Homo sapiens: one gene and its partner. The protein of the gene in region 2 purifies or fractionates together with the protein of the main gene of each other region. This does not show direct contact. Each region holds a gene or a part of one and is shown on either strand. Other genes may lie near its edges.

Evidence for each region. Proteins that work in one complex are often made in the same cells at the same time.
Region 1: the proteins of LYRM4 (region 2) and DDAH1 purify together in Homo sapiens (affinity purification with mass spectrometry; one large-scale study listed by BioGRID and IntAct). This does not show direct contact.

The regions. Positions count from the first base shown.
Region 1 is NC_000001.11:85,322,160-85,325,659, reverse strand, and holds part of DDAH1 (N(G),N(G)-dimethylarginine dimethylaminohydrolase 1), read left to right. Parts: intron 1-776; coding exon 777-920; intron 921-3,500. UniProt on the Homo sapiens protein: Hydrolyzes N(G),N(G)-dimethyl-L-arginine (ADMA) and N(G)-monomethyl-L-arginine (MMA) which act as inhibitors of NOS. Has therefore a role in the regulation of nitric oxide generation.
Region 2 is NC_000006.12:5,215,951-5,219,450, reverse strand, and holds part of LYRM4 (LYR motif-containing protein 4), read left to right. Parts: intron 1-2,712; coding exon 2,713-2,833; intron 2,834-3,500.

The sequences.
Region 1 (3,500 bases), on a different chromosome or scaffold from region 2:
ATAAGTTCATCATTTGAAGAACAGACCTGCCAAGTAGGTTTTTTTTTTTTTCTCTCCAGTTGTGGTCCAGGGAACCTCTGCCTCAAAATTATCTGTAGGGCTTCAAAATGCAAAATTCCTATGCCTCACCCAAAATCTGCCAAACCAGCTTTCCCTAAGGGTGAGGCCTGGGAATATGATTTTCTTATTCTCCCCAGGTGGCTTTTATGCTCATTGTATTAAGGCCATCACCTGCCAATGAACAGGTGAATTCAGTTTAAAAGTATGTGGAAGAGCAAAGCGTGTGTGTGTGCGCGCGCGCGCGCACGCACGTGCATGCACACACGTGTGGTGTTACTGATTAATCAGATTCACATTATTGACTATTCTGATTACTGGTATGGCCCTTCTTTCCTATAGAGGAGGCAGCCCTGCTTACTCAGCCAAAGATATCAAAACCCCTGCTGGGCCTTACATGTGGCCATTTTGCATCTTACTGATAAGTCTTACGAACAAAGACTAGAAAAATAATAGACGGTTTTAAAACCTTAAAAGAAAAGAGAGACAAACACATACTTTTAAAGAGCAACAAAAACCCTTGCAATTCTTCCAAAGACTCATAGCTTAATCAAGTTTTCCTTTTCTGGTTCTAAGTGACTGGAGGTAATAGATGGGAATTTGAACAGAGGAACAGCCTAAAGTGTCAGTTCCAAGCTTGTATCCTACCACACTGCCTTCCTTCTGTTTGAAAGTGTGGGGAGTTACTCTTCTTAGGCCTGCTTTGTTTCTCTTTATAGATCATGCAACAGATGAGTGACCACCGCTACGACAAACTCACTGTGCCTGATGACATAGCAGCAAACTGTATATATCTAAATATCCCCAACAAAGGGCACGTCTTGCTGCACCGAACCCCGGAAGAGTATCCAGAAAGTGCAAAGGTAAAAAAATATCCCTTCTGACCACTGCAGCTGGGTCAGCCTCCCTGGGGATTTTTTCATAAAGGAGTGACCAATAGGAGCCTCCTTTTCCTGTATACATATCAAACAATTAAGAAAAGAAAGGATAATACAATTTAGGGCACAAGGAAAATGTGTTTCACTTTTCTCATTCATGTCATTGCTCACTAATGCATGCATAGTAATTGAGATGATCATGCCGGGTATTCAAGGCTTTTCAAATAAATACTCAGATTTTCAAATAAGTAGTCACCCAAGTCTATGCCCCAGCTCTGATTAAATGTACTTTCCCACCCTCAGATACTCATTAAGCATAAAGACCTACAATTAGATGGTCAACGGTATCGCTGTTTTCTGACAGATCTGAGCTGTCCCTCAGAAAAGGGCAGCTTTTCTTTTTATTTCTTTTTATTTTTTTATTTATTATTATTATTATTATTATTATTATTTTTGAGACAGGGTCTCACTCTGTTACCCAGGCTGGAGTGCTGCGGCACGATCTTGGCTCACTGCAACCCCACCTCCCGGGCTCAAGAGATCCTCCCACCTCAGCCTCCTGAGTAGCTGGGACTACATGCATATACCACCACAACCTGGCTAATTTTTGTATTTTTAATAGAGATGGGGTTTCATTATATTGCCCAGGCCGGTATCAAATTCGTGAGCTCAAGCAGTCTGCCCGCCTGGGCCTCCTAAAGTGCTGGAATGACAGGCATGAGCCACCATGCCCAGTCCTTTTTTTTTTTTTTTTTTGAGACAGGATCTTGCTCTGTTGCCAAGTCTGGAGTGCAGTGGCATAATCATGTCTCACTGCAGCCTCAAATTCCTGGGCTGAGCAATCCTCCTACCTCAGCCTCCCGAGTAGCTGGGACTACAAGCATGCACCATTATACCTGGCTAATTTTTTATTTTTTGTAGAGACGGGGTCTCCTTATGTTGCCCAAGCTAGTCTCAAACTCCTGGGCTTAAAGGATCCTCCCACTTCAGCCTCCCAAAGTGCACAGGCATGAGCCACCACACCTGGCCATTTGTTTCTTTAGGTAGAGGAGTATGAATGACCCAGAGTGGTGGGTGTTCATTGTCAGGGCTGCAGAAAGAAGAAACTGCCCGTGCTAGGTAGCAAAAAGCTCTTCATTGAAAAGATAGAGCAGGTAGTAATATGGTACACTCGAAATCAGCCAACTGGTCGCTCCAGGAGTCTCTGTGTTTGTGTTCCAATAAGGGAGCTCTCTCTGGATCTGGAATGCTTTTCCTGGTCTAAGAAAATCTCCCTTGTTTTTCAGCATACTCTGCCAGTCTCATCTATATACTTTAGTAATTTCGATTTTACCCTACCAAGCAAACATAACAGTGCTCGTCCATAGATTCTTCAAGTGTCCATATCTTCTAGGCACTCAGCATCTCATCTCTGCCCGGAGGAACAAGATATTTATACTATGCATTACAGAAGAGCCTTTAGTAATCATTGATCTTTTTTTTTTGTCTTAAGCTTCGCAAATATTAGAAAATATTTTATACTACCTTTTAAATATGCAATATGATATAATTACTAGGTTCACTCTCTAATCACAGCCTCTTTCTGAGCAGATAAAAAGAAAAAGGTGAGGGAATACATAGATAATTTTTTCTATTTCCATGGCTGAAAGTGTGAACCTGAGGAAAATAGAGTACTCCTGACCCAGAACTGGGGCTTACCCAGCTCTTAGATGAGTAATGGATCTCATACTTTAATGCACATCAGGGTTGCTAAAAATGCAAGTTCCTGGACCCCCACCCTAGAATCTGCAATATCAACAAGCACCCAGTCACAGAACTCACTTTGAGAAATACAGGTCTGAATCATTCATCCCTCTTTAGCCACATTGATCATCTGACCTACCAGATGATTATTCACTGCCCCCCTGATTCAGCCGTTTGTCTCTCAAAAATAACAATAGTATTAATAATATCCCTGTTTACTGAGGGCTTCCCCGGTGCCAGGCAGGGTGCCAGGCATCCCAGGTGTATTATCTTATTCAGTCCTTGTAACAGCCCTATGGGGGCAACATTACTATTCCAATATTACAGAGAAGTAAACCGAGGCTCAGAGGGAATGTCACTTCACTGAAATAATTCTTTAAGTAGTAGGTTGACAGAACTGGGTTTGGGACCCTACTCTGGCTCCAACACTCTTAATTAACCACTGTGCTGAATTTTAAGAAACGCAGTGCTTCCTAAAGAAGCACAGGAGATTGTTATTAGGCAGTACACTTTCAAGTGATTCTGTTTTTAAAAATATGCTTTGTTTGATCATCACAGAACAATCTATGAACTGTTAATTGAAGTTTTGACATATGCTTTCTATTAGTGTCAAAAGATGCTAATAAAATTCATACCTGTAATTTAAAAGCAGTTTAACCTGAAATACTTAAGTTATATCTTGTCAAATTTTTCCAGCAGTGTTGGTAAGAAAATAAACCTAAAGTATAGTTGAGAGGGTTTTAAACTGTGAAGAGAAGGCCTAGTGTGGTGGCTTATGCCTGTTTAATACCAGCACTTTGGAAGGCCAAGGCAGGATGATCA
Region 2 (3,500 bases):
AGGAGGGAACCATTACAGCATTCATCTCGAAAGTGCATCGAAAATTTGAATCATGACTCTTGATTGCTTTAGACACATTTAATTCCAAGATCTAGAGCTGCTTTTCTTTAGGTAAGGACTTTGGAGAGCTGGGGAGACAAACAAGTATACATAGCAGAATATCCTGACCCTGGGCCTTGAGCTCAGTTGATATAAATTGTTGAGTGTTTTAAGCTATTTTCTCATTTCCTTAAACTTTGGAAGACCTTAGGTCTTTACATTCCAAACAGTACTCCTTTTTTCCTAGCTATTCTAAGCTAGTTACTAGCTTTTAGAAAAATGAGTTTAGCAATAGCTACTGTTGCCCATTTTGTTTTTCCAAGAAGCCCATGCAGCATACGAAATGAAAAATTTAAACAATAGATGATTCCTGGAGGTAAATTCATGTTATAAACCAATTTTGCCTGTGGAACAAATATTAGAATTAAATTATTTTGTCCCCTCTTTGCTGCCATCATTGCCAAAAAAGAAACTGCTTTGGAGGAGTATGTGGTTGTCAAGAAGAACAGTGATGCTGTGTTTTATAAATAGCCATTAGGCTATGCAAGAAAGTGCCAGAAATTGCTGTTAATTTACCTAGCTGCTATCTAAAATCTTGTTAGATTAGCAGCTGCACCTGAGGAGAGTCTGTATCTGATGTATTCCATTTGTAAAATCCTCCCATATCCCTTTAGAAGTGAATGAGCCCCAGTTATTTAGCAGCTGCTAGTACATGGATTCCATGCCCAATCGCTGTAGCCCTTTAGGATTGATACTGAGCGCTCAGCAGCTCCTCTGAAATACTCCAGCTGGTTCACAGAGGGTTAAGATCAAAGTCTCAGCAGTGTCTTACATTCTAAGTACCGGTTCCTAAACTCTTCCCTTCTCCTTTATGATTCCTAGTATCATAAGATTTAGTTTTACTCTTGCTTTTAAATGCAAATAGACCTGACATTTGAATTTTTTAATGTAAAATGCCTTTTTACTTTAAAAAACTTTATCTGAAACAATTTGTCCTTTTTAAGATAAAGTTTCCCAATAAGTTATATGAGCTCCCAACACCCCCTCCGCGCTGCTCCCAAGGAAATTTATATCCCCTCCTCTCATTTCTTTGCCTGTATTTCCATTCTTCTGTTGCTAAATATTACTACTGGCATCACATGGATTCTTTAACCGGTGCTCCAAGTTAAAAGCAGAGCAGTCTGTGATCATTAAGAAGACGAGAGAGCCAGGCACTGTGGTGTGTGCTTGTAATCCTAGCTCCTTGAGATGCTAAGGCAGGAGGATAGCTTGAGCCCAGGAGTTTAAGACCAGCCTGGGCAACGCAGCAAGTCCCCATCCCCCAAAATTTTTTTTAATTAGCCAGGCGTGGTGGTGGGTGCTTATAATCCTGGCCACTTTGGAGGCTGAGGCAGGAGGATCACTTGAGCCCAGGAGTTTGCAATTGCAGTGAGCTATGATCATGACACTGCCTGGGCAACAGAGGGACACCCCATCTCTAAAAAAGAAAAAAAAAACATAGAGAAAATGGTGTCTCACATGCCTGGCTCAGTCTGCTTCTCCTTAGTCTTATGCCTTTCAATCTGGAGTAGTTGGGGTAGAGCTAGAGATAGGCCATAGCCATCTGAGTATGAGGCTGTGTCTAAGGACTGCTGAGCTGTCTGTTGTGGCTAATTATCCACACCACTCTACCTTCTGTACACACACTATGGTGTGACTGTAAGGATGCAGGATGAAGGCAAGGTTATGGCATGAGGAGAGGGAACAGTAATTGCATTAAGGCATAACAAGTGTTAAGAAGAATAGCTTTCATTTATTGAGTCTTTCTATGTAACAGGCTTTGGGCCAAATTCCAGACACACATTATAAAGCCTAGTCCTCCCAGCAGCCTTTAGCAGTATTATGCCTTTTTGACAGATGAGGAGACACGGCCTTGTGTTAAGAAGCTTGCCCAAGTTCACACAAACAGTAGAAGCTGGAGCAAGGCTACAAACCCAAGCCTGTCCGATGGGCAAGCCTTGCTCTGGAACTGCTGTCCTGTACTGCAAGTGAGCTGTCTGGTTGGGGGTGGGTGGTAGGCGTGTGCACTTTCAAGATGGAGGTAAAGAAAGCGTGTTGGCCTAATTCCACAGGTTCAACTGTGGTGGGATCCTAATGTGGACAACAGAAAGGGAAGTGAGAGCCAGAATATGGGACAAGGACTGGAAAGCATAGGTCACTATCTGGGTACATGCAAATACGATCGTCATGTAACCTCTGAATTTTTTCTTCCTTTCTTTTAAGACAGGGTCTCGCATTGTCGCCCAGGCTGAAGTGCAGTAGCACCATCATGGTTCACTGCCGCTAACCTCTGAGTTCTTGATTTGTCTCTGTACACTAAAGGTTCAATTATCCATGTAAATGGAATGAAGCCAGATGTGAATAAGGCTAAAGAACCAATAATCTAAGGAACACTTCAGTAGCAGTTTGCCATTTGTATGTGACTTGTTGAGTAGATTTATTTTCCTAAATCTGTTTGCTTAGTCATCCCAGAATGGTAGTGGATCAGCCTGCGCCACGAGCAAAGATCAAAGTGGATTATCCGTAGGGGAAGATTAAACAGTTAATTCTAAAGGAAAAACTTTAAAATTCATTTGAAAGCATAGCCTCAGACACGCTGACACCTTTTCTTTTTTTTCCTCTGAATTCATTTAGAACATATGCTGTCAGGAGGATAAGAGATGCCTTCAGAGAAAATAAAAATGTAAAGGATCCTGTAGAAATTCAAACCCTAGTGAATAAAGCCAAGAGAGACCTTGGAGTAATTCGTCGACAGGTAAGATGGTTCAATGATGTACTGTTTTTCATTAAGAGCTTTAAACTTCGACATATTCCCCTTGATTAGACAGCCGTGCTTTTGGTGTTGGTGATTTACAGAGCAGGATCATGAAACTCTGTTCCTTGTACTAATACAGACATGTAAAGGTGAACTCTCATATTTTCAGATTCAAGTTGAACTTAAAATACCAGCTTTCCGGAATTTCCAGGGAGTGTATCCTTCTGGAAAGCTGATACTTTTAAGTATGAGAAACTTCTGCATTAATTTTTTTGAAAGCTAAGTTTTTGTAAGATGTATCGCACATGTGTACTTGGATATATTTCAGAGTATAAATATATTCTCCCTTTCCTAGTATTTTTAATCATAATTCAGGATAAACAGAACGTGGCCCTTTTCTTGAAGACACCATTGTGGGTGGTGAACCTGAATTACGTTGCCACATGGGAGGTGCATCTGCAGGTGCAGATGGTGTAAAGTACAGCTGCTTGGGTGCTGACCCCATAAAGGAACCTGGAGGGTGTGTTAGTTTTCGTTTTGTGGAAGTGCCAAGGATCACCTTGACTTGTGCTTCCTTTTCTCATTCTCATGAGGTGGGTGGAGCATGTGCAGCGGCATGATCTCCTGCGTGGTCTGATAACATCCGCAAGAGTAATTAGAACGTCAG